Homo sapiens: one gene and its partners. The protein of the gene in region 1 purifies or fractionates together with the protein of each later gene. This does not show direct contact. Each region holds a gene or a part of one and is shown on either strand. Other genes may lie near its edges. The genes, in order: DPEP1, TBL2, ABCB6, ENDOD1, HPCAL1, PIGQ and FLCN.

Evidence for each region.
Region 2: the proteins of DPEP1 (region 1) and TBL2 purify together in Homo sapiens (affinity purification with mass spectrometry; 2 studies listed by BioGRID and IntAct, with this or other methods). This does not show direct contact.
Region 3: the proteins of DPEP1 (region 1) and ABCB6 purify together in Homo sapiens (affinity purification with mass spectrometry; 2 studies listed by BioGRID and IntAct, with this or other methods). This does not show direct contact.
Region 4: the proteins of DPEP1 (region 1) and ENDOD1 purify together in Homo sapiens (affinity purification with mass spectrometry; 2 studies listed by BioGRID and IntAct, with this or other methods). This does not show direct contact.
Region 5: the proteins of DPEP1 (region 1) and HPCAL1 purify together in Homo sapiens (affinity purification with mass spectrometry; 2 studies listed by BioGRID and IntAct, with this or other methods). This does not show direct contact.
Region 6: the proteins of DPEP1 (region 1) and PIGQ purify together in Homo sapiens (affinity purification with mass spectrometry; 2 studies listed by BioGRID and IntAct, with this or other methods). This does not show direct contact.
Region 7: the proteins of DPEP1 (region 1) and FLCN purify together in Homo sapiens (affinity purification with mass spectrometry; 2 studies listed by BioGRID and IntAct, with this or other methods). This does not show direct contact.

What each region holds. Positions count from the first base shown.
Region 1 is NC_000016.10:89,627,142-89,630,641, forward strand, and holds part of DPEP1 (dipeptidase 1 isoform a precursor), read left to right. Parts: intron 1-1,813; exon of another isoform or gene 1,814-1,828; intron 1,829-3,128; exon of another isoform or gene 3,129-3,163; 5' UTR 3,164-3,269; coding exon 3,270-3,373; intron 3,374-3,500. UniProt on the Homo sapiens protein: Hydrolyzes a wide range of dipeptides including the conversion of leukotriene D4 to leukotriene E4. Hydrolyzes cystinyl-bis-glycine (cys-bis-gly) formed during glutathione degradation.
Region 2 is NC_000007.14:73,572,080-73,575,579, forward strand, and holds part of TBL2 (transducin beta-like protein 2), read right to left. Parts: intron 2,435-3,500; coding exon 2,304-2,434; intron 2,044-2,303; coding exon 1,859-2,043; intron 1,393-1,858; coding exon 1,241-1,392; intron 892-1,240; coding exon 765-891; intron 1-764.
Region 3 is NC_000002.12:219,212,616-219,215,958, forward strand, and holds part of ABCB6 (ATP-binding cassette sub-family B member 6), read right to left. Parts: intron 2,468-3,343; coding exon 2,346-2,467; intron 1,884-2,345; coding exon 1,774-1,883; intron 1,572-1,773; coding exon 1,506-1,571; intron 1,337-1,505; coding exon 1,211-1,336; intron 1,052-1,210; coding exon 975-1,051; intron 888-974; coding exon 824-887; intron 712-823; coding exon 626-711; intron 451-625; coding exon 393-450; intron 1-392. UniProt on the Homo sapiens protein: ATP-dependent transporter that catalyzes the transport of a broad-spectrum of porphyrins from the cytoplasm to the extracellular space through the plasma membrane or into the vesicle lumen.
Region 4 is NC_000011.10:95,127,846-95,130,495, reverse strand, and holds part of ENDOD1 (endonuclease domain-containing 1 protein precursor), read right to left. Parts: intron 2,120-2,650; coding exon 917-2,119; 3' UTR 1-916. UniProt on the Homo sapiens protein: May act as a DNase and a RNase. Plays a role in the modulation of innate immune signaling through the cGAS-STING pathway by interacting with RNF26.
Region 5 is NC_000002.12:10,309,404-10,312,903, reverse strand, and holds part of HPCAL1 (hippocalcin-like protein 1), read right to left. Parts: intron 1,202-3,500; exon of another isoform or gene 1-1,201. UniProt on the Homo sapiens protein: May be involved in the calcium-dependent regulation of rhodopsin phosphorylation.
Region 6 is NC_000016.10:576,468-579,967, reverse strand, and holds part of PIGQ (phosphatidylinositol N-acetylglucosaminyltransferase subunit Q), read right to left. Parts: intron 1,590-3,500; coding exon 1,463-1,589; intron 1,184-1,462; coding exon 1,030-1,183; intron 900-1,029; coding exon 788-899; intron 1-787. UniProt on the Homo sapiens protein: Part of the glycosylphosphatidylinositol-N-acetylglucosaminyltransferase (GPI-GnT) complex that catalyzes the transfer of N-acetylglucosamine from UDP-N-acetylglucosamine to phosphatidylinositol and participates in the first step of GPI biosynthesis.
Region 7 is NC_000017.11:17,220,169-17,223,668, forward strand, and holds part of FLCN (folliculin), read right to left. Parts: intron 2,494-3,500; coding exon 2,333-2,493; intron 1,461-2,332; coding exon 1,369-1,460; coding exon of another isoform or gene 1,211-1,368; exon of another isoform or gene 1-1,210. UniProt on the Homo sapiens protein: Multi-functional protein, involved in both the cellular response to amino acid availability and in the regulation of glycolysis.

The DNA of each region.
Region 1 (3,500 bases):
GGGCGCCTGTAGTCCCAGCTTCTCTGGAGACTGAGGCAGGAGAATGGCATGAACCCGGGAGGCAGAGCTTGCAGTGAGCTGAGGTTGCGCCACTGCACTCCAGCCTGGGCAATAGAGTGAGACTCCGTCTCAAAAAAAAAAAAAAAAAGTCAGATGTGGGATCAGGCATGGTGGCTCACACCTGTAATCCCAGCACTGTGGGAGGCCGAGGAGGGCACATTATTTTAGGTCAGGAGTTCAAGACCAGCCTGACCAACATGATGAAACCCTGTCTCTACTAAAAATACAAAAAAAATTAGCTGGGTGTGGTGTGCGCCTGTAATCCCAGCTACTCCGGAGGCCGAGGCATGAGAATCAGTTGAGGCAGAGGTTGCCGTGAGCCGAGATTGTGCCACCGCACTCCAGCCTGGGTGACCTACTGAGACTCTGTCTCAGAGAGAGAGAGAGGAAGGAGGGGAGGGGAGAAGAGGGAAAGGAAGGGCAGGGGAACCCAGTCTTGGATATTTCTTCTTTTTTTTTTTTTTTTTTTTTTTTTTTGAAACGGAGTCTTGCTCTGCCACCCAGGCTGGAGTACAGTGTTGCAATCTCGGCTCACTGCAACCTCCGCCTCCCTGGTTCAAGTGATTCTCCTCCAAAAGCCTCCAAGTAGCTGGGATTACGGGCAAGGGCCACCATGCCCAGTAAATTTTTGTATTTTTAGTAGAGAAGGGGTTTCACCATGTTGGTCAGGCTGGTCTCAAACTCCTAACCTCGTGATCCTCCTGCCTTGGCCTCCCAAAGGGTATTTTTGTTTGTTTTTGAGACGGAGTCTCGCTCTTTCGCCCAGGCGGGAGTGCAGTGGTGCAATCTCGGCTCACTGCAAGCTCTGCCTCCCGGGTTCATGCCATTCTCCTGCCTCAGCCTCCCAAGTAGCTGGGACTCCAGGCACCCGCCACCATGCCCGGCTAATTTTTTTTATTTTTGGTAGAGACGGGGTTTCACCATGTTAGCCAGGATGGTCTCGATCTCCTGACCTGGTGATCCACCCGCCTCGGCCTCCCACAGTGCTGGGATTACAGGCGTGAGCCACCACACCCGGCCACAAAAGGTATTTCTTTCTTTCTTTCTTTTCTTTCTTTTTTTTTTTTTTTTGTGAGATAGAGATTTACTCTTGTCGCCCAGGCTGGAGTGCAATGGCGCGATCACAGCTCATGGCATCCTCCACCTCCCGGATTCAAGCGATTCTCCTGCCTCAGCCTCCCGAGTAGCTGGGATTACAGGCATGCACCACCATGCCTGGCTAATTTTTGTATTTTTAGTAGAGACGGGGTTTCACCATGTTGCCCAGGCTGATCTCGAACTCCTGACCTCAGGTGATCCGCCCGCCTCAGCCTCCCACAGTGCTGGGATTACAGGTGTGAGCCACCTTGCCCAGCCCCCAAAGGGTATTTCTTTATAGCAGTGTGAAAATGGACAAATACAGTGGCCTCAAGTTCTCTCCTTAGTGGCACCTGAGGGAGTGTGGTGCTCTTGGAAATGCTCTCCTGTCACTCAGTTTCTGCCTCTGAAGCGACAAGCAGAACATGGATGTTCTCAGAGTCCAGGGCTGTGTAGATAGTATTGGAGCTGAAGGCAAAAGGAAAAATCAGAATATTGGGCCTGTCTTTATTTTAAAGGTTTGTGGGGGAGGGGGGGCGGTTTGTGTTTTGTTTGTTTGTTTTTCTGAGATGGAGTCTTGATCTGTTGCCCAGGCTGAAGTGCAGTGGCATGATCTTGGCTCACAGCAACCTCCGCCTCCCGGGTTCAAGTGATTCTCCTGCCTCAGCCTCCTGAGTAGCTGGGACTACAGGTGCGCACCACCATGCCCAGCTAATTTTTGTCTTTTTAATACAGAGAGGGTTTCACCATATTGGCCAGGCTTGTCTTGAACTCCTGACCTCAAGTGATCCATCCGCTTCGGCCTCCCAAAGTGCTGGGATTATAGGCGTGAATGACTGTGCCCAGCTATTTTAAAGTTTTATACTTTGTTCATTATGGATTTTTTTTACATGAATTCTGATTTTTTTAAAATATTGAATGAAAATACGATTTATCATGACCTGGGCATGGTGGCTCATGCCTGTAATCCCCGCAGTTTGAGAGGCCAAAGCAGGCAGGTTTGCTTGAGGCCAGGAGTTCGAGACCAGCCTGGGAAACATGGGGAAGACCCCATCTCTACAAAAAATACAAAAATTAGCCAGACGTGGTGGTGCACGCCTGTGGTCCCAGCTACTCAGGAGGCTCAGGCAGGAGGGTTGCTTGGGCCCAGGAGGTGCAGGTTGCAGTGAGCCGAGAGGGAGCCACTGTCCTCCAGCTGGGGCGATCCTCCTTCCCTGCCGGGCTCCCCCCACCCCCCCCCGAAGCCTCTGACCAGTTTTCCCTCCTGCTCCTCCCAGCAGGCCTGGTTTAGCCCCAGTGCTCAGCCCACTGTCCCCCAGAACCCCAGACACCACCCAGCCCTGGGATTAAGATTCTTCCGTCAGGGCACCACCTGGGAACTGTGTGCCCAGGAGCCCTCGGGCGACTTGAATGTGCTCTGCTGAGTCCTAGAGAGGCCCCGGTTCTAAGGACGTGTCTAGCTGCTTGGCCTGAAGCTCTGTAGCTGGAGTGTGGGTCCCTGTGACGCTGGAGGGCTGCAGGCCGGGGGTGCGGACCCCTCAGCAACAGGGCAGGCGCCAGGGGCACACCTGGCTGTGCAGCAGCTTCCTGGAACGCCCTAATGTTTATCCCCCATGGCAAGTCACGTAAGATGATTTTTACGTGGAAAGGGGTGCTTTATGAGAATGCACTATTTGAATGACTGTTGTCTTGCTTGCAGATCTAGGCCCCCGGGTCCTGAGGGAGGTGGTAGTAATAACAGTAGCACAGCTAGAGCCAACAGCCACTCACCACTCATCTGGGCCTGCTCTCAGCCTGCTGTCCTTTCATCTGGGCTCTAGCTCCACCCCTGGGTCTGGGATCCCAGCTTCTTACTATGCCTCCGCCTAGCCCAGACAGCAACGCCCAGTCATTGAGTGTCCGGCCTTCCATCCTACCCACCCTGGTGGGGAATGTGCTGGTTACTTATTGAACATGGGAAGCTATAAACAGGAGAGCAGCCACCTGTCATCACTTCCACCCACACCTCTGGTGCCTCTCCTGGCAGGCAGAGTGGCTCCTCACAGCCTGAAGCTCATCCTTCTGCACGGGCCAGCCAGGCCAGCACAGAGGCACCAGGGCAGCAGTGCACACAGGTCCCCGGGGACCCCACCATGTGGAGCGGATGGTGGCTGTGGCCCCTTGTGGCCGTCTGCACTGCAGACTTCTTTCGGGACGAGGCAGAGAGGATCATGAGGGACTCCCCTGTCATTGATGGGTGAGTGCTCACCTGAGCCAGGTGCTTAGGGAACCAGGACTGGGAACTGGGGCTGGGAGAGCGGGGCTGGGGGAGCCGGGGCTGGGGGAGCGGGGCTGGGGGAGCCAGGGCTGGGGGTGCCGGGGCT
Region 2 (3,500 bases), on another chromosome or scaffold:
ACCACAACAAAAAAGTTCTTTTATGTATGTGACCTCAGTTTATCTTCTAGCCTTGTTCTAAGATATGTAACATCCCCGCCCAAAGGTGGCTTGGCACAGTGGCTCACGCCTGTAATTCTACCACTTTGGGAGGTCGAGGCAAGAGGATCACTTGAGGCCAGGAGTTCAGGACCAGCCTGGGCAACATAGTAAGACCCCATCTCAACAAAAAATACAAAAATTAGCCAGGTGTGGTAGTGCACGCCTGTAGTCCCAGCTACTCGGGAGGCTAAGGTGGGAGGATGGTCTGAGCCTGGGAAGTCAAGGCTACAGTGAGCTGTGATTGCGCCACTGCACTCCTGCCTGGGCGAGGGTGAAACCGTCTCAACAAACAAACAAACAAAAAACAAAAATTAGCTGAGTACAGTGGCACATGCCTATAGTCCTGACTACTCAGGAGGCTGAGCTGGGAGAATAGCTACAACCCAGGAGTTTGAGGCTGCAGTGAGCTATGATCGCACCACTGTGCTCCAGCCTGGGTGACAGAGTGAGACTAATTTTCTAAAAAACAAAAACACTGAAGATGAAGAAATAGCGACTAAGGACATGGGGCGACCTGCATGAAATCCCACTACTGCAAGTGGGGAGAGCTGAGACTTGAAGCTCGGGTTCCTGACCCCACCCCGTATGCTCTTCCCACGCGATGAAGCTGGCTCTCTGTTCTGTGCCTGCTCCCCAGCCCCAGCCTCTCGTGGTCCCAGACGCCAATACCCCTCCTTGCCCACCTGCCACAGGGAGATACAGCAGCGTGTGTGTTGTTCATCTGGTTGGTGTTGATGGTAGACAGCACTTGACCCTTCAGGCTCCAGATGAGGACAGTGGTGTCACTGGAGGCAGTCATGATAAACTTCCCTGAGCGGGAAGGGAGTGATGTGGGTCACGGGCAGTGACCTGACCAACTGTCACTCTCCAAAGACACTTACAAGGCCTCTGCTGCCCGAAGTATACATGTCTCCTCCCAGGCCAAGGGTCACTACAGATAAGGACTCTGCTGAAGACTGTGGCCCTTCCCCACCTTCCCTAGGGACCTGGTGTGGCCCAGGGACTCCAGGGGAGCACAGAGCCAGGCTGTTCAGAGCCAGGGACCCCTTGTTCCTCTCAGGTTGAGCAGAACTTTCAGGCAGCATTAACTCATTGAGGAAATAGAACTGGATCTTTCCTTCATGCTTTGGGCAGGCGCCACCCTCTGAATGCCTCTTACCTGTGTTAGCAATGCCAATGTCGATGACAGGCGCCTTGTGCTTTTTAGGGAAGTCCTCTGGGGTGGCTGTGAAGGTGTAGCCCCCATCCTCCCGCTTGGTCATCTTGAAGACACGGAGGGTGTCCCCGTTGGCCAGCCAGACGATGAAGGCTCTAGAGACAGGCAGCAGACAAGTCACGCTCTCACTGGACAAAGAGGCTCTGTGTTCCAGGTCCTGTGCTGGGTTCTCGGGGAAGTCAAGATCTCTCCTCATGCCCCACAGTCTAGCCTTAAAACTTAAGCCCCTGGTTCCAAATCTCATAAAACTCCTCAAAAGGTAAGATTCTGATAGCTTTGGCTCCTTTAGTTTCTCTCTAGGGTTTAGAAACTAAGGCTCATCTGGAAGCCAGGCCAAGGTATTTCCAGGTAGGAAGAGACCTCCCCCTGTTTCCTTGCTGTATAGCAGCCCAGATCTCCAGGGAGCCCCAGGCAGCGCGCAAACTATGTGGATGCTCTTTCTGGCACCCCAAGGGAGGCCCTGGGTCCAGGTCCCTCCTCACTACCTCAAAGCAGATATGGGAAGGCCAAAGCCTGGGACTAGGCCTCTGCAGGCAAACCTGAGGCTCCGTCTTGTCCCACCTGCAGTCAGGGCTGAAGCGCACCAGGGTGGCGTGGTCCAGCTCCACGTTGGCTCTCATGCTGCGGTGCTCTCGCTGCAGGAAGTCCTTGGTGCTCCAGATGCGGATGGTGCGATCATCTGCACAGGTAGCCAGGTATTTGCCATTGCTGCTAAAGTCCATGCAAGATATGTTCCCGCTGTGGCTCTAGGGGAAGGGTGGCAGGAAGTGTCAATAGGAGCTCCTGGGGGAGATGGGGAAGCCAAACCTGGAGCCGGGGAGATGGGGCCCTGTGGCCTGGATTAACAGCAAGCTGAGATTGGGCTGCGATGAGAGGGGACAGAATTAAGCACCCCCGCTGATTCTGATCAGAGGCAGGAGAGCCTGTAACATGCATGGAATACTCCAGAGGAAAAGCCTGTGGGGCTGAGTCTCAGGGTGCACGCTGTGCCAGGTACCCCACGTACCTTCAGAGCTGCAGCCAGGAGGCGGTGGGTGAAGTTGTGTTGTTGAGGCTTCTCCTTCCGAATCCGCTGATATTGTTTCTGCTTCTTGGATCCCGAAGATTTGTCAGGTGGAAATCCATTTGCTTTTTGGCCTATAAGGAAGGGCCATGTTGTTCTCCAGTTACTCACTGATAAGCATTTACTGCCCACCTATGATGAGCCAGGCATTGAGTGGAACAGCAGGAGATTAACCAGATATGGCCCTTGTCTTCTGGAGGAGAATGAGTGTGATATGGGCAAAAACAGAGGCTTTGGCTGGCTGGGTATGGTGGCTCATGCCTGTAATCCCAATGCTTTGGATCATTTGAGCCCAGGAGTTCGAGGCTGCAGTAAGCTATGATCACAACACTACTGCATTCCATCCTGAGTGACAGAGCAAGACCCTGTCTCAAAAAAAAACAAACAGAAAACAGAAACAAAACAGAGGCTTTGGAATCAGACCTGGGTTTGGATTCTGTCTCTACTACTGACTGACTACTGAGGAGGCTGTTTACAGTAAGTCCACAGAGCACCTTCATGTAGAGTGGAAAAGGCGCACTCTCTGGGTTGGGTGATGCTGCTGGGCGGGTACACAGCACGGCCAGTGGAGTGTGGATCCTTGGCCAGACATCCCTATGTAGGGAGTAATGTGCACAACCATCTCTAGCGGCCCTGCTTTGGGTAAGTTAGTGAATTGCTCTGGACCTTGGTTTTTTTTTTCTTTTCTTTCTTTCTTTTTTTTGGAGACAGAGTCTTGCTCTGTCGCCCAGGCTGGAGTGCAGTGGCGTGATCTCCGCTCACTGTAGCCTCTGCCTCCCAGGTTCAAGCAATTCTTGTGCCTCAGCCTTCCAAGTAGCTGGGATCATGGGCGTGCACCACCATATCCAGCTAATTTTTTTTTTTTTTTTCAGATGGAGTCTCGCTCTGTCACCCAGGCTGGAGTGCAGTGGCGTGATCTCAGCTCACTGCAAGCTCTGCCTCCCGGGTTCACGCCATTCTCCTGCCTCAGCCTCCCAAGTAGCTGGGACTACAGGCGCCCGCCACCATGCCCGGCTAATTTTTTTTTGTATTTTTAGTAGATGTGGGGTTTCACCACATTAGCCAGAATGGTCTCAATCTCCTGACCTTGTGATCCACCCGCCTCGGCCTCCCAAAGTGCTAGGATTACAGGCGTGAGCC
Region 3 (3,343 bases), on another chromosome or scaffold:
AGGTTCAAGCGATTCTCTTGCCTCAGCCTCCCTAGTAGTGGGATTATAGGCACCCGCCACCATGCCCGGCTAATTTTTGTATTTTTAGTAGAGATAGGGTTTCACCATGTTGGTCAGGCTGGTCTTGAACTCCTAACCTTAGGTGATCTGGCCACCTAAGCCTCCCAAAGTGCTGGGATTACAGGCATGTGCCACCGCAGCCGGCCGAGGCCCACTGGCTTTTGAGGTTCCCTCTCCAAGAGGTCACCAGTGTCCATGGAGGCTGCACCATTCAATCCGGTTGCCTATCGTGACTGGGCTCTCTGACTCCACAGCCTGGGTCACAAGCTACCATGGGCACTGAATGAGGGAAGCTTGAGGCATCTGGGCCAAGTGGCTGGGTCTCCTCTCACCAGGGCAAGTGTCTGTCCAGGCATCACAGTGAAAGACACGTCCTGCAGAGTCTCCCGCCTGCAAGGAAAGGTGGGGTTGCTCAGCAGGCACCTTCCATCACCAGAGCTGCTAGTAGGCCCTGCCCCTCCCCTGCCCAGGCTCTTTTCCAAAAGCAGGGATTCAGAGCACTGAGAAGCAGGAAGGCAGTGTGCAAATGAACGGAAAAGCAAAGGAAGCAAAAGGAAGGCCTCACCCATCGGCATAGCTGAAGTGCACGTTCTCAAACTCAATACGGCCCTTCTGAAAGCGAAGGGGCCCTGCTCCAGGAAGGTCCTTCACCTGGAAGGGCACCACCCATGTGTGCTGAGGTTCTCAGCTTTGTGTTTTCCAAGCACGAGAAACACCACACAGCTCCTCCCTCCCCAAACCCTACTCCTCTCCCTTCGCTCACTTCTGTCTCCTCTTTCAGCAAGTCAAACATGTTCTCCATGTCAATGAAGTTGGTCTGGATCATCCTGCAAAAAGGTGCTGGTTAGGACTTCTCTGAGTAGCCAGGAAATAATAATGTGCCCTGGACAGGTGAGGGCCAGGGCTCAGATTACCTGTAGTAGGTGCCAAACCAATTGAGGGGCATGTACAGCTGGATAATGTAGGTGCCAAAGAGCACATAGTCCCCAACCTGTGGCAATCAAGGAAGCAGAGCATGTCACGGGGGGCCTGCAGGCCGCTCTTCTTGTGTCACCCTGCCCACTTCCTACCGAAGAGCCTGGTGACCAGACACAGGCCTCAGGCCCCCTTTTCCTTGTGCCCCACTCTCTCATCCAAGATCCTGCCTCACCTGTAGCTTCTGCTCAGTGACAAAGTATGCGCAAAGCAGGGAGCCGGCGAGGAGCCCGAGCCCAATCACCAGGTTCTGGGTCTGATTTAGTAAAACCAGTGAAGCGCTCGACTTCCACTCCAAACCCTGAGGGCAATAACACAGGAAGAGGAATGTCCTATACACAATGGCCATCAGTGAGTCCAAACCTGGGCCCAGGCCCCTTCTACCCCAACACTCGACTATCACTCTTGGCCCTGAAAATTCTACCAGGCCAGGGCATTATTCTCCGGAGGCCTCAAACTAGCATCCTCACCTGATATTTGATGATGGCCTCTCGATAGCGTTCCACTTCGTAACTCTCGGCGTTGTAATACTTCACCTGATGAATTCAAACCAAATTTATTTGGCATGGGCACAGCACATGGCACTCGGGTCATTCCCCCCAACTCTCAATCCTCCTTCCTGAGTTCAAACATCACACACAAACATCACACCCCCAGCTCTCTGTCAGCCCCAGTGGTCCTGGTTACACTCCTCCACATCTCCACGCCTCACACCACTGCCACCGGGCCCTCTGTTACCGTCTCGAAGTTTAGCAGAGAGTCCACTGCTCGTGCCCGGGTAGCGTTCTCCTGTGTGTTCATAGCACGACGAAACTTGGTTCTCCACTCAGTGACCACAATGGTCAGGGCTGGAGAGTGACAGGATGGGGAGCAGAATAGGACATCATCCCCAAAAGCAGAGACCAAATGTCAATGTCCACTACCTGCCATGTACACACTAAGCCTATGCTCAAGCCCGGACACCCAGATTCCACAGGGAGGCACCTCTGCAGCCTGCACAAAGTCTCATGTGTAGAAAACGCTTTTGGTAAATGAAAGCAAGCTGCATCTTGTTACACAAACGAGGCTTCCTTGACCTGTGTCCACGGCTCAGACTTAACGTGACAAGAATGTCCTTCCCCAGCCCCTCAGCTAGGTTAAGGTTTGATTTGACAGAAGAGACCCGCCCATCACATGACGAGCACTAGGAGCCCATTCAAGTCCACCAATCCACAGCCTCCCATAGGTGGGTCACTTGAGTGGGGGCACAGCTCATGGCCAAGGGAGTCCCTGGATAGTTCAGGGAGACGGTGTCTCCCAGCAGCACTCACTGAGGTAAAGACTCATGCACAGGAACACAATGAGGCCAAACCAGGCGTTGAAGAACATGCTGAAGTAGATGATGCCAATGATGATGTCGGCCAGCGTGGGGATGACATTGAACACCAGGTAGCTAGGAGGGCAGGTCAAGTGAATAAGAAAGGTCTGGGGGCTTAGACCCAGCAACCCTGCCTCTAGGCATTTCAGGGTAGTGTTTTATTTTCAAGCAACAGACTGGAACCAGTCTTAATTAATTCTACCCTCAAGAGGTGGGTGGCTAAATCAACCATGCTCAAACTACAGAATTCTCTGTATCAATTACAATGAATGAGGGAGACCTTCAGGCATGGAAGAAAAATATATCTCCATAATGTTCTGTTAATAAGCAACTCTGAGAATGATGGCTATGTCACAATACCATTTGTTTTAGGAAAAACCTCCACAATGCCATATTAGTTCTGTGAGTCTGCATATATAATATGTATGTAAAAATGCAAAAAAGCAGAACCCAGCTGGGCACAATGGCTCACAACTGTAATCCCAGCACTTTGGAATGCTAGGTGGGCAGATCACATGATGCTAGGAGTTCCAGGCCAGCCTGGCCAACATGGTGAAACCCTGTTTCTACAAAAAATCTAATAATTAGCCAGGCATGCTGGTGCACATCTGTAATCCCAGCTACTCAGGAGGCTGAGGCAGGAGAATTGCTTGAACCCGGGAGGCAGAGGTTGCAGTGAGCAGAGATTATGCCACTGTACTCCAGCCTGGGTGACAGAGCGTGACCCTGTCTCAAAAAAAGAGCAGAACCCAACATACTAAACAGAGTGGGAAGCTCTGAAAAAGTAAGTGCAGCTCGAAAGAGATTTGCCCTCTGCCCGCATTACCTAAGTTATTAGGAGAGCATGTATACAATAATCCTATACTTTAAAAAACACCAAGGTGGGAGCGGCAGCTTCTCAGGCGGGGTCTGTTCTCTTCCTCCCACGGGCCCCTATCCCTGCTTCTCCGG
Region 4 (2,650 bases), on another chromosome or scaffold:
ATCTTTCAGTTCAACCTTGTCAGGCAGGGATACACGTCAAGTTAATCCAAGCTGGACAAAAGATGTCCTTGGATCTGCAGCACCTACTAAGAGCAGGGCTGTCCACCTTCTCTTCTCTTCTTTCCACCGGAGAGGACTGTATTATACCATTCAAGGGGCCCAAAAAAAAAAGAAAAGAAAACTTTGCCCTTCAATTCAAACTCTGTTATGCCACATTTGGCATAAAATGCTTACCATTACCTAAAAATGATTTTTTAAAAAATGCTTATCATTACCTAAAAGAAAAATGTAGCAAAATTCAACTTTGGAGGAAAATGAAAACTGTACATATCCTTGAGAACCACGGAAAGCTAAGAGATATAGAAAATTGTACATTCCCACAAAGTTATTTCAACAAAGAGGCATTATCTGCATTCCACCAAGGTCAGTCGAGTTGAGGAGAAAGAGAAGCAAATGCCAAGAAATTGGCTGCAGATTTTTTTTTTAATCTGTTTTGCCTTAAATCACAAAGAGCAATGGGAAGAACAAGCTCCCTTTCTCCTTTTCTCAGACACCTTTGGTCTAAAGTTGTTCTTTTTCTAGTTCTTCCCTCCCCTGTAATTTTTAATTATCAGAAATAAATACCAGTGCATTTCAGGTGGTCGTCTGTGTTAGAGTGCATAACTGAAGTTATTAGTGGCTTGGGAGTTTGCACATATAACTGGAGGTAAACAGCAGATTACTACACCTAATCTCACCCTGAGCATTTCTCCTCTGTCAAGTCTAAATTCTGCCATCTTCTTTTGCAAAAACAAGCAGACATCCCCACCAAAGGCCAAAATATAATGATAACTGACAGTGAACAGAAACCCATTGTAAAGACAAACTATTCCAGCTTTCAAATTCACTGTGACTGGATACTATTAGTTTTTTGAGTTTATAACTCCCCAGAATTGTCAAAAGTAACCTTGTAGCCAATCCGCTTGCAGACACTAAAAACCACCTGAAATAGGCCACCCAGGGTACCAAAAGCAGTGTCAAAGAGCAGTGAGACAGTGCCACCAAGGCCCAGTGCAATGTCCTTGCAAACAATTGGAATAGCGCCCATGGTGTACACAGGGAAAGTGGCCACATCCACAAGGACACGGACAGGGATGCTCAGAACTCGGCAAATGGCCTTCAGCAGACAACAAAGGATCCGGAGGAGAGCCCTGATGACTTTGGCCACGACCTTGAGCACCTTCCAGGGAATGCTCACCAACTCTTCCCCAATGGCCATGAAGTATGAGATGGTGGCTGAGCCCAGGCGGTAAAGGCAACTTTCTATGCCATTAATCACCTGCTTGGTAACACACCACAGGAAATAGACAATGTTCTTCAGGATTGCTACCACAAGGTAATAAATTAATTGAAAAAGCTTGATGAATGGGGTAGCAATGAAGCCCATGAGTTTTCCCAAAAAGCTACTACTTCCCTCAGATGCCTCTGGAGGCAACAGAGTAGACCTCTTGCTCCTGGTGCTAGAAAGGGGACTAGAACTCTTTTGAGATTGTACCATTCGTTCTTCATCCTGGATTTGGTTAACCACTTCCAGGATTTTTTTCATTTTCTCTGTGTCTTGCTCAGTTTCACCACAGTTGTTCTGAAACAGCTGAGGGTTAAATGGAAGCAGTTTCTGAAGATCTTTTACCATCACATCTTCTATGATGTCACTGTCCCGGGTGTGCTTGACAAAGCCCATGGCCCAGCCTCCTCCAGGGACAGCACAACAGGCTGCCAGCCAAACAAACTCAGGGACTGCCACTTTGTCTTTAACTCTGTAGTCTGAGGGCACTGTGCCTGTGAGGATATATAGGTCTTCCCCACTGCCACACTGTGGGGTCAAAGCCCGGTCCATTAGGCTGTGGAGATTCACATACCACCGTTCCTGGAAGGACTGAGTCATTGGGGCTGAATTTGTGAGAGTAAATGTGGCCACCTGGACATCACTGCTAAGGGAGAATGGGTAAAGCTGTCCTCTTTGGTAATCAGAATCAAGGTAATCTGTATTCAAGGCTTGCTTGCTTCCCAGGCTGTTCACAGAGGTGATGGCCTCTGCCTCATTAATCGCCTCCTCAAGGTTGCTGTTGGGGTCATCGATCTGCAAGAAGAAAACAAGTGGTGAGATGCATCCCTGCTTACAGCACAGAGGCAGCACTAGAATCATCCTGCCCAGACTCTGGAGAAGTCCCCACTGGTCTATTACTTCAAACGCTTGAGTTTGGAAGGACTTGGTTCTCTGGCACATGGACACTTCATTCTGATATACCAAAATCCTGGTGTTTCAAAGCATCTTTCAGATAGGCTGTTTCCTAGTCTATTACCTGTGTTTATCCCACCCTGCTCTACAGTAACACCCCTTCACTCACACTCACACCCACCATCGTGATGTTCTTTTTAAAATCTGTTGTAGTCTGGGGCCAGGTGCGGTGGCTCACGCCTATAATCCTAGCACTTTGGGAGGCTGAGGCGGGTGGATCATCTGAGGTCAGGAGTTCAAGACCAGCCTGGCCAACATGCTGAAATCCTATCTCTACTAAAAATACAAAAATTAGCTAGATGTGGTGATGGGTGCCTGTAATCCCAGCTACATGGGAGGCTGAGGCAGGAGAATCACTTGAACCGGGGAGGC
Region 5 (3,500 bases), on another chromosome or scaffold:
TGATGACGATGATAGTGATGGTGATGGTGGTGGTGGTGATGATGATGGTGATAATGACAGTGATGACAGTGATGATGAATGGTGATGATGACGGTGATGGTGACGATGGTGACAATGATGATAATGACGATGATGGTGATGATGACAGTGATGGTGAATGGTGATGACAGCAATGATGGTGGTGATGGTGATGATGATGGGGATGGGGATGATAGTGATGATGATGATGATGATGGTGATGGAGAAAGGTGATGATGACAGTGATAATGATGGTGATGGTGATGGCAATGGTGGTGATGGTGATGATGATGACAGTGATGGTGATGATGATGAGGATGGGGATGACAGTGATGATGGTGATGGTGGTGGTGATGATGATGGTGATAATGACAGTGATGATAGTGACGGTGAATGGTGATGATGACAGTAATGATGATGGTGATGGTGATGATGGTGATAATGATGATAGTGATGATGATGGTGATGACGACATTGATGGTGAATGGTGATGATGACAGCAATGACGGTGGTGATGGTGATGATGATGGGGATGAGGATGATATGATGATGATGATGATGATATGATGATGATGATGATGGTGATGGAGAAAGGTGATGATGACAGTGATAATGGTGGTGATGGTGATGGTAATGATAGTGATGATGATGGTGATGACAGTGATGATGGATGTTGATGATGACAGTGATGATGATGGTGATGGTGATGATGGTGGGGATGATAGTGATGATGATGATGGTGATGGAGAATGGTGATGATGGTGAGGATGATAGTGATGATGGTGATGGAGAATGGTGATAATGATGGTGGTGATGGTGGGGATGATAGTGATGACGATGATGATGACAGTGATGATGAATGGTGACGATAACAGTGATGATGGCGATGGTGATGATGGTGGTGGTGATGGTGATGACAGTGATGATGATGGTGATGATGACAGTGATGATGAATGGTGATGAATGGAATGATGATGATGATAGCGACAGCAATGATGATGGTAATGATGATGATGGGGATGGGGATGATAGTGATGATGATGATGATGGTGATGGAGAAAAGTGATGATGTCAGTGATAATGATGGTGAGGTGATGGATATGATAGTGATAATGATAATGGTGATAATGGTTTTGGGGAGCCAGCAACTGGCCCAGCACAAACCACAGGGGGAAGGAGCTACAGGCCACAGTGAGCCCTTTACACTGCTTGGCGATCCCTGGCCCCAAAACCTGGAATTCCTTACCTGTGCTCTACATCTTCTCCCCCCACTCCCATCCACACTGTGAAAATAATTCTCAAATGCATAACCTTTCACCTTACAATGAGCTCTGAGAATAATCAGCCAGGCCGTATTGTTTTTAGATAAGGTAACAGCATATCACCAAGAACATGTGCTCATAAAAGCAGCAATTCTTTATCCCTGGATGTCTTCAGAAAGAAGAGGGGAAAGCACCTCCTAAGAAATAAGAATAAATTGTACCTGCCAGCATTCCAGCATGAAGGCAAGCAGGGCCTTAGCACCTGCCAGAGCCCTGCGTCTACCTTTACTCGCTGGGAAGAAAGACACAGAGAAGCCACGGCAGCCACATCTCATGTCCCACCCCTGGAGGCTAAGCCCCTGCCAGGCATCCAGGCTGCATCACCAGCACGGGCTCCAAACTGCATGACTGAAGAGTTTCTAATAAAGCACACCTCAACCACTGCTGAGGGATTGGGGGGCGGGGGGACAACCAGTTCTGCCACCCATGGCCCTATCTCAGCCCCTGAAGCTGGGGGCTTTTCTGGACCTCCTACATCCCACACTCATTCTGCCAGGAGTGTCTCCAGCCACACACAGTAAATACGGAAAACTGCATGATGTTAAAAATGATTTTTTTTCAACATAGGTGATCGATTTCGAGAGGTTCTCACTTCTCTCCAAAAATTGATTACAGGGCAGCAAATAGAAAAGATGGGAGTGAAAGGGAGGAGTTGGGGCTGTCATCAATTCTGCTTTCTGGAAACGTCTGTTAAATGCACAGAAAGAAGGCAGAGAGCTGAGCATTTTGCTGCTAGAGAAAAAGAGCGCTGCAGTCGATACACACTGCTGTACAGAACCGCAATTCTGCAAGTGTGCCCAGCAGTCCTCCTCCGGCCTGCCAGCACGAACACTCCCAGACCCGATCCATGCTCTGCACACACTCACAGAGGGAGGGGACCACCAGCTCCGGGCCTCGTTATGCCTGAGGAACAACCTGCAGCTCTCTCTGTGCAACCCCCACCACCAAGCTCAGGGTCTCTGTAGGTGCATCAGGGACCCTGACAGATGCTTCTCAGAAGGCATGAGGCTAGGACAATCCAAAATGGCAGCTCCCCAAACTCCAAGCAGTAACCAGCACTGGCTGCCTTCCGGAAGCCTCCACACGCACAGCAGTCACAGACTCCAGCATCAAATCCCTTGCTACGACAGCCTGGATCAAAACATGCCTCATAAGCCCGAATTTGAAAAGGAATTCTGTACTCAGTGGCAGAGGAGGCACTAGATCCAAGAATGCTTAAAGAGTAATGGCAGCCACCACCACTTATTCCACACGTGACCAGCCAGACTCACCTAGGTACTCACATCTGCGTCCCCATCTACGTCTGAGCTGCGCCTAGAACCCCTTTCTGCACATGACCAAACAGACTCAGAGAACATCACCAGCCAGTAAACAGAGCAAAGACTACAGTTCAAACCCAGTCTGCCACATCTGCAGACCTGGGTTTGAATTGTAGTTCCTGTCAATATCTGAGCTCAGCCTAAAACCCCTTTCTGCACCTGAGCAAACAGATTCAGAGACCATCACCAGCCAATAAACAACAGAGCAAAGACTACAATTCAAACCCCAGTGTCCCTGATCTTTCCAAGGTATTTTGCAAATGAGGTTCTAATACTCCGATTCAAGAATGTCTTGGTTCTTTCCACCATGATTTCTTTCATGGTTTCTGTCCACCATGAGAGTTCTCTACAACCATGGGAGAGAACGGTCATTTGTGATCTACCTGGCGTACAATGGGTATACAATTTCTGTGTCTTGGTTTGTGCATCTGTCAAATGGCATCTCATCCTCTGCTCTCTTCCTCAAAGAGTGAAAATGATCCAAGGTGAGAAATGCATCAGAAATGCACCAAGCCACCCAAGGCCACAGCACCACTGCATTCAACGCCCTCCCCCAGCCCCTTCTATTTACCAGGAGACCTCTCTACACACACACATTGCTTGAACCATCTCTACCTGTTCAGTTGTGGACTAGGTAGGTACTGGGGCAACACTGTGTGAACATGTGTCACACAGCACTCATGCCCTAGAAGGAGCTTCCATGGCTTAGGAAGGGATGACAAGACTCGTACAGGAAAATCTGAACACCAGCCCAGGCAAGGCCATAAAAGGGCATATCATTACTACCAAAACAAGGGCGGAAGAGAAAGTGACCTCGTTTAATTCTTGATCCTTCTACTTT
Region 6 (3,500 bases), about 89 Mb from region 1:
GACCACCCAAGACGGTGCGTGGCCACACAGTCACCAAGAACATGCTCTGCATGGCAGCATCCAGCGGCTGCGGCAAGTGTGAGCAGCAGACGGGCCCGGGCAACTCTAGTCTCCGAGCCCGGGCACCTCTAGTCTCCGGGCCCGGGGCACCTCAAGTCTCCGGGCCCGGGGCACCTCTAGTCTCCGGGCCCGGGGCACCTCTAGTCTCCGGGCCCGGGGCACCTCAAGTCTCCGGGCCCGGGGCACCTCTAGTCTCCGGGCCCGGGGCACCTCAAGTCTCCGGGCCCGGGGCACCTCTAGTCTCCGGGCCCGGGGCACCTCTAGTCTCCGGGCCCGGGGCACCTCTAGTCTCCGGGCCCGGGGCACCTCTAGTCTCCGGGCCCGGGGCACCTCAAGTCTCCGGGCCCGGGGCACCTCTAGTCTCCGGGCCCGGGGCACCTCTAGTCTCCGGGCCCGGGGCACCTCTAGTCTCCGGGCCCGGGGCACCTCTAGTCTCCGGGCCCGGGGCATCTCTAGTCTCTGGGCCCGGGGCACCTCTAGGGCCTGTGCCTGCACCACCTTCGGGGCTGTGTGTCTGTCTCTTCTCTGTGGCCCAGGGAAGCTCTGCGCTGCTTCAGAGCCCCACGTGCAGCCCACACCGCAGACTTATCTATTCCCAGGGCCTGTGCGCGGCCTCAGCTGCAGGACGGGAGCAGGCTGCCCCCTTGTGGTGCCCAAGCACCGCGCTGGCCCAGCGGGCACAGGCCGGAGGCAGTCAGCCCCTCCAGCCACGAACCCTGCCCCATACCTGGTCCAGGTCATAGGAACAGGAGTCCACGCGCTGGCGCAGAACGTTCCACTTCTTCCCCCGGAACAGACGCCACAGTGAGGACAGGCCATGGATCTTCAGGCAGTACAGCCTACAGGACGCAGTGCTGTCGGGCCCGGCCCCGCCCCGCCCCGCCCCGCCCCCGCCCCACTCGAACGCCCGCCCAGCCGGAGCCTCTGCACCTCCCAGGGGGCGGTGGGGAGGGGGAAGCCCACGCCCACCTGGCTCCATAGACGTAAAAGCAGTAGATGTGGAAGGTGAGGAGGGCGATAATGTCCGAGAGGAGGGACAGGGCCACCGTCAGGCCCAGGCAGGCCGAGAGGCCCACGTGCCAAAGGATGTGCTCCACGAAGGGGGACATGAGGTGGATGTAGCCTGGCAGGGTGGGGTAGGCCCTCAGGAGGCGCTCAGACCCCAGCCCTCGGCCCAGCACAACCCTCACACACACAGGACATGAGGTGCGTGTAGCCTGGCAGGGTGGGGTCAGCCCTCGGGAGGTGCCCAGGCCCCAGCCCTCAGCTGAGCACAGCAGGCCTCACACACACAGGACGCTGGGGAGCAGAGTTGGGGGCACAGGGGGCGGGGTCTGGCTGGGTCCCTACCCTCTTCAGCAAGCTCTGGGGTCCCTGGGGCCCCCGCCTGCCCTGCACTCACTGATCCACAGGTGGATGTGGTAGAGGAAGAAGCGGCCCAGCACCTGGTCCAGTGCACGGTTCATCTTGAGCCCGGCGGGAGCACCCATCAGCCACTGCAGCAGATGCTGGAGCTCCTCGGCCACGTGCTGCAGGGACACAGGGGCCACGCTGGGGCGGGGGCAGCCAGGCTCAGCACCTGCATCTCCCCAGGCTCTTTCGTGATGGGCTCCCACCTTGGCCAGCCTTCCCTCCTCCAGGGTCTACCGCGTCCTAGCGTGGACAGCACACGGGCTCCCCTTCACAGATGGCTCCGGGATTGGGGTCTGAGGAGGCTGGTCTGGAGGCCTCTCTCTGCAGGCCTGGGTGACATGGCCGGGCCCACAGGGCATCCGCGTGGCCCCCTGCCTGCACCCACCTCTACCATCTTCCTCCCCTCTCACTACCTCGGCCACAGGACCCACTGGAGCCCTCGGCCCCAAACACGTGGACGCACTGAGGCCTGGCAGACCCTGATTCGGCTCCAGCCCTGCAGGGAAGCCCACAGCTGACACAGTCCCCTCCAGAGGCCCCACCCCATCGCAGAGGCTGGGGGCTGCCCGGGATGACCACAGGTGAGCGAGACAGTGCCAAGCCCATCAGGGCCACAGCGACCAGGCAGGAGGACAGGTCCCCAGAGGGAGGATGGCGTCAAGTTGAGGGCACAGGCACCCCCAAGAGCAAACAGGGAAGCAGGGTCTTGGCCGCCCAGGAAGAAACTCAGCATCCAGAGGCTGTGCCCCAGCGGGCAGACCCCAAGGGAGCCTCAGCCTCCCCACTAAGGAGACAGTGAGTGACACCTTGGCCCCCACTTGCCCATTGCGCAGGCCCCTTCCAAGCCTGGGCCAAGGCCTCAGCCACAGCAGGACTGGCAAGAAGGAGAAAAGAACACTTTTTTTTTTTTTTTTTTCTGAGACGGAGTCTTGTTTTGTCGCCCAGGCTGGAGTGCAGTGGTGAGATCTCGGCTCACTGCAAGCTCTGCCTCCCGGGTTCACGCCATTCTCTTGCCTCAGCCTCCCAATTAGCTGGGACTACAGGTGCCCACCACCATACCTGGCTAATTTTTTGTATTTTTAGTAGAGACGGGATTTCACTGTGTTAGCCAGGATGGTCTCGATCTCCTGACCTCATGATCCGCCCGCCTTGGCCTCCCAAAGTGCTGGGATTACAGGCATGAGCCACCACCCCCGGCTGAGAAAAGAACATTCTTTATAAATAGAGCTTATTTAATATTTAAAGGATAAGAGCTTGGCAGCAGGAAGAGACTTTCATTTTTAAATTAAATATTTATATTTCTGAGCACTTTTGCAAAAGGGAGGTCTAGGACAAAGTAGGCCGGTGGCAGGTGCGGACGACCACAGGCAAAGCTGCCGAGCCCCTTCCCCAGCCCCGCCCCTCCTTCCTTCTGGGCTGGAGCTCCCTGCACCCCCACAGCCACACAGACGTGCCTGATGCTGCCCCCAGAGGCCTGGCCTGGCCACAAGCAGGCCCAGTGCACACCTGCAGCCCACACAAGACCCACCCAGTCAGGCCTCAAGGAGGCCTCCACAGAGGCCCGAGGGTGGGCCAAAGAGTCAGGTACCACCCCCAGCAGGAAGACAAGCTCCTAATGGAAGAGACGGGGCTTTGGTGCTGAGGGAGGAAGACAGAGAAGCTGAAGGCCCAGAGGCAGCATGGAAATGCACTAGATCTGCAGAGGAGGGGGCTGCACCCGGCTGGAAACGGGGCACAGACCATGCAGGGAAGGTGGGAGATGGGAGACAAGCTGTGCCTCTGGCTCTCAGCACAGGAGTTACAGAATCAGCACAGGGGCAGGGCAGGAAGTCCCAGCTGGGCTGCACATGGGCCTCCCTGGACAGGAAAGGTTTCATGACCCTGGCTCTGCAGAGGGCCCCAGAGAGCCAGGAGGGCAACGCTGATCTCAGGGACCACAAGGGAGATACCAGGACGCTGGGCCCACAGGGAGAGGCGGGCTCCCCAGAGCCTCAGCCCGGCTGGCTCCTGCACACAGCCCCTTCAGA
Region 7 (3,500 bases), on another chromosome or scaffold:
CCAAGTAGTGGGACTACAGGCATGCGCCACCACGCCCAGCTACTTTTCATATTTTTTGTAGAGACTGGACCTCCCTATGTTGCTCAGGCTGGTCTCAAACTCCTGAGCTCAAGCAATCCACCTGTCTCGGTCTCCCAAGAGCTGGGATTCCAGGCGTGCACCAGTGCCTGACTTCGTTCTTTATGGCTACATCCAACATCATTTCATTTAGTCCTCTCAGCTGTTCTGAGGTCAGCACTATTATCTCCATTTCACAGATGAAGAAATTAGTATTTGTCATTTCAACGAAACTTCATGGAGCCCTCACAAATGACAACATCTCCATTTCACATCACGAGACCCAAAGGGAAGGGTGCACGTCAGAAGCAAATCCAGGATGCGAAGCCAGGTCTGTCTGATGCCAAAGGGCAAGCCCTGAGCCCGAAACCCCATACTGCGCATGCCCAGCACACCTGCGTTTCCAGCTCTCACAAAGGCTTCGACAGACCTGGCTCTTCGTGCTAAAAAGCTCACCAAGACACTGCCCTTGCCATCTGCACCTGCCTAGAAACATGATTAGCACTATAATAAATGGCTCCAGGGCCAGCCAACCTGCAGGGCATGGGGGTGGATTCCCAGGCTTTGTCTTTCCTGACCAGGTTTTGCTCTTGCTGAGACTCCATTGGCAAAGCTTATTTGAGGGCACGCCTGCACCTGCCTGCAGAAACACCTCGAAACAGCTCTGGCTGTTTGGAAGGCTGGTCATTTGCAAGCAGAAGCATGGGAAGCATTATTAATGACATGTGGTGTGGAACAATGGTCGTACCACAGACCTGTAGCACCAAGATCAAATCATCCCTGATGGAAAGCTTGGCCAAGACTGGCCCAGTGCTTCCAGGCTGGTGCACACAGTGCCACGATCCCCAAACACAGGGCCCCAAGCCCCAGATCAGGAACCTGGGGAAGCCCAGGCACCTGGGAGGTCAGGGAACCACTGCCCTTCATGGAAAACTTGGGACGAACTGAAACAGAACACTTTATTTGTAAAGGAGCAAAGACCGTCGACCAGGCCAAGCACTTGGCTATCACAAAATCGGGACGAGAAGCCTTTAATCAGCCAGTTCTCTCTACAGACAGCCCACCTGTGAATTTTCCCCACCTAGCTGGGGAACAGATTCTTTCACATGGCGGTCAAGGCAAACGAGACAGGAAATCACAACAATCACAACAATCACACCGAGATCGGAGGGTGAGCTTCCCGAAGGCTCGTTCTGGGCTGATTCAGAGCCGCGTTTCCCTCCCTCAGCGATTCCTGCCAGGAGAGCAGACAGCTGGTACCGCCCCACGGCCATCCGGGCCAAGGCCCCGGCAACAGCACCCCTGCCTCACCAGCGAGCTTCTCCATCTGGACCAAGGTATCCTCGGTCGGAGCACCTTCCAGGAGCTTCTCGGTCAGCCGGCTGCCACACGCCTTCAGGAGCCTGGAGAACACAGCACCAGCTATGAGCGTTCTCGCCAAAGGAAAAAGCAAACCTGACGCTCACCCAGCCCCTGATCCTACCAGTTTAAAGAAAAAATGGGTATAAAAGAACACCAGCAGGGCACAACCAGCCAGATCCCGCATGCAGGCAGTTCCACAAGTCAACGACCAAGGTCCTTCAATAGATGGATGGGAGGAACTTGGAGGGGAGGGGATGCAAGGGGGAGCTGTTCTAAACCAGAGAGACTTGGGGCGCTGCTCCGATGCCAATGCAGTCACTTGTGAGACAAAAGGTAAACTGCACAAGGGCTTGCAGCCTGGAGAACACTCAGGAGTCTGTCCGTTTTGTCGGACATGATCACAGTATTGTGATTATATTTATGGCTGGAATGATACGACTCAGATTTGCTTTAAAAAAAAAAAAAAAGGCTGGGCGCGGTGGCTCACACCTGTAATCCCAGCACTCTGGGAGGCTGAGGCAGGTGGATCACATGAGGTCAGGAGTTTGAGAACAGCCTGGCCAACATGGTGAAACCCCGTCTCTACCAAAAATAAAAAAATTAGCTGGGTGTGGTGACAGGCGCCTGTAATCCCAGCTACTTGGGAGGCTGGGGCAGGAGAATCACTTGAACCCAGGAAGAAGTGAGTTCCACATCAATATGTTTTCAGCACACTCAGGGGAAGAGGCCTACAGAACAAGGACTCCCAGCCCAGATCTGTGCTCACTGACAAGTGCCCACAGGCCAGTGCTCCTCACAGAGGCAGCAAGCAAACACGGCTAAGGACTGTTCTCCCAAATCCATGGACAAGCCAACCAATGTATCGTGACTGCTCTATCCTAACAGATATGCCAAAAGCAGAGACGCCCGTTACCAGGCAAAGGAGGTGTGCAGGCACGCCCACAGGTTGTCATCACTTGTCAGCGATGTCAGCGAGCGGGCGGCGTTGCCGTTCCTCTGGTGTAGGAATGGCGTGAAGGCTGTGTTCATCCTCTGAGCACGCTGTGGGCATCCAAACTGCTCTGCCTCAAACACCTGAAATGCAAAGGGAAGGGATGGCCTCTTTAAGCCAAAGCTGCCAGCAGCTCGGACCCCTACTCGTTCACAGCCAACTCCAGGACCTGACTCCTGGAGGATCAGTCCCACTATACTCTCTCCATGCAGAGCACACAAAGTGCCACCAGTCCAATCATTCCCAACAGCATAGCTCTGCCCCGGCTACATCAGGAGCTATCCGAGAACAGAAATCGGTTGAGCTTCTCCTGTCCCCTTCCTAATGAGTGACCCAAGGCACCCAGGGGGATTCTCGTGAGTGGCCATCTGCGCTGCTCCCCACCTGTCTCCACCTCCCCTTCTGGGTGCACTACTTGGCTAAGGCACACGTGACTGGCTCTGGTCAATGAGCTGAGACAAACAAGGCCCTCAGCACCATCTGTGCTTCTGGAGGGCAGAAGGAGCAACATTTTTTCCTTTCTTTTTTTTTTTGAGATGGAGTCTCACTCTGTCGCCCAGGCTGGAGTGCAATGGTGTGATCTCGGCTCACTACAACCTCTGCCTCATGGGTTCAAGCGTTTCTCCTGCCTCAGCCTCCCAAGTAGCTGGGATTACAGGCATGCACCACCATGCCCAGCTAATTTTGTATTTCTGGAAGAGACGGGGTTTCTCCATGTTGGTCAAGCTGGTCTCAAACTCCCGACCTCAGGTGATCTGCCCGCCTTGGCCTCCCAAAGTGCTGGGATTACAGGCGTGAGCCACTGCGCCCAGCCTAGGGGAAGCATTTTCATATGGCTGCCGCTCTGCCTGCCAGGACGACCACAGCAAGCAGAGCCCCACTCTCCTGCAATGCACACACCATGAGTAAGAAACAGGCCCTATGGCTTGAAGGTGCTGAGATCCGAGGCTGTTACCAGAGCACGACCTGGCCTGGCCTGGCCTGAGCTGCATCTCCACAGCTGGAGGCCTACATTCGGTGGTGCAACTCAATGGGATTAACAGACATCCCTGAGATGAAGGCCAGAGGAAACAAAGACACCAGGGGTCTG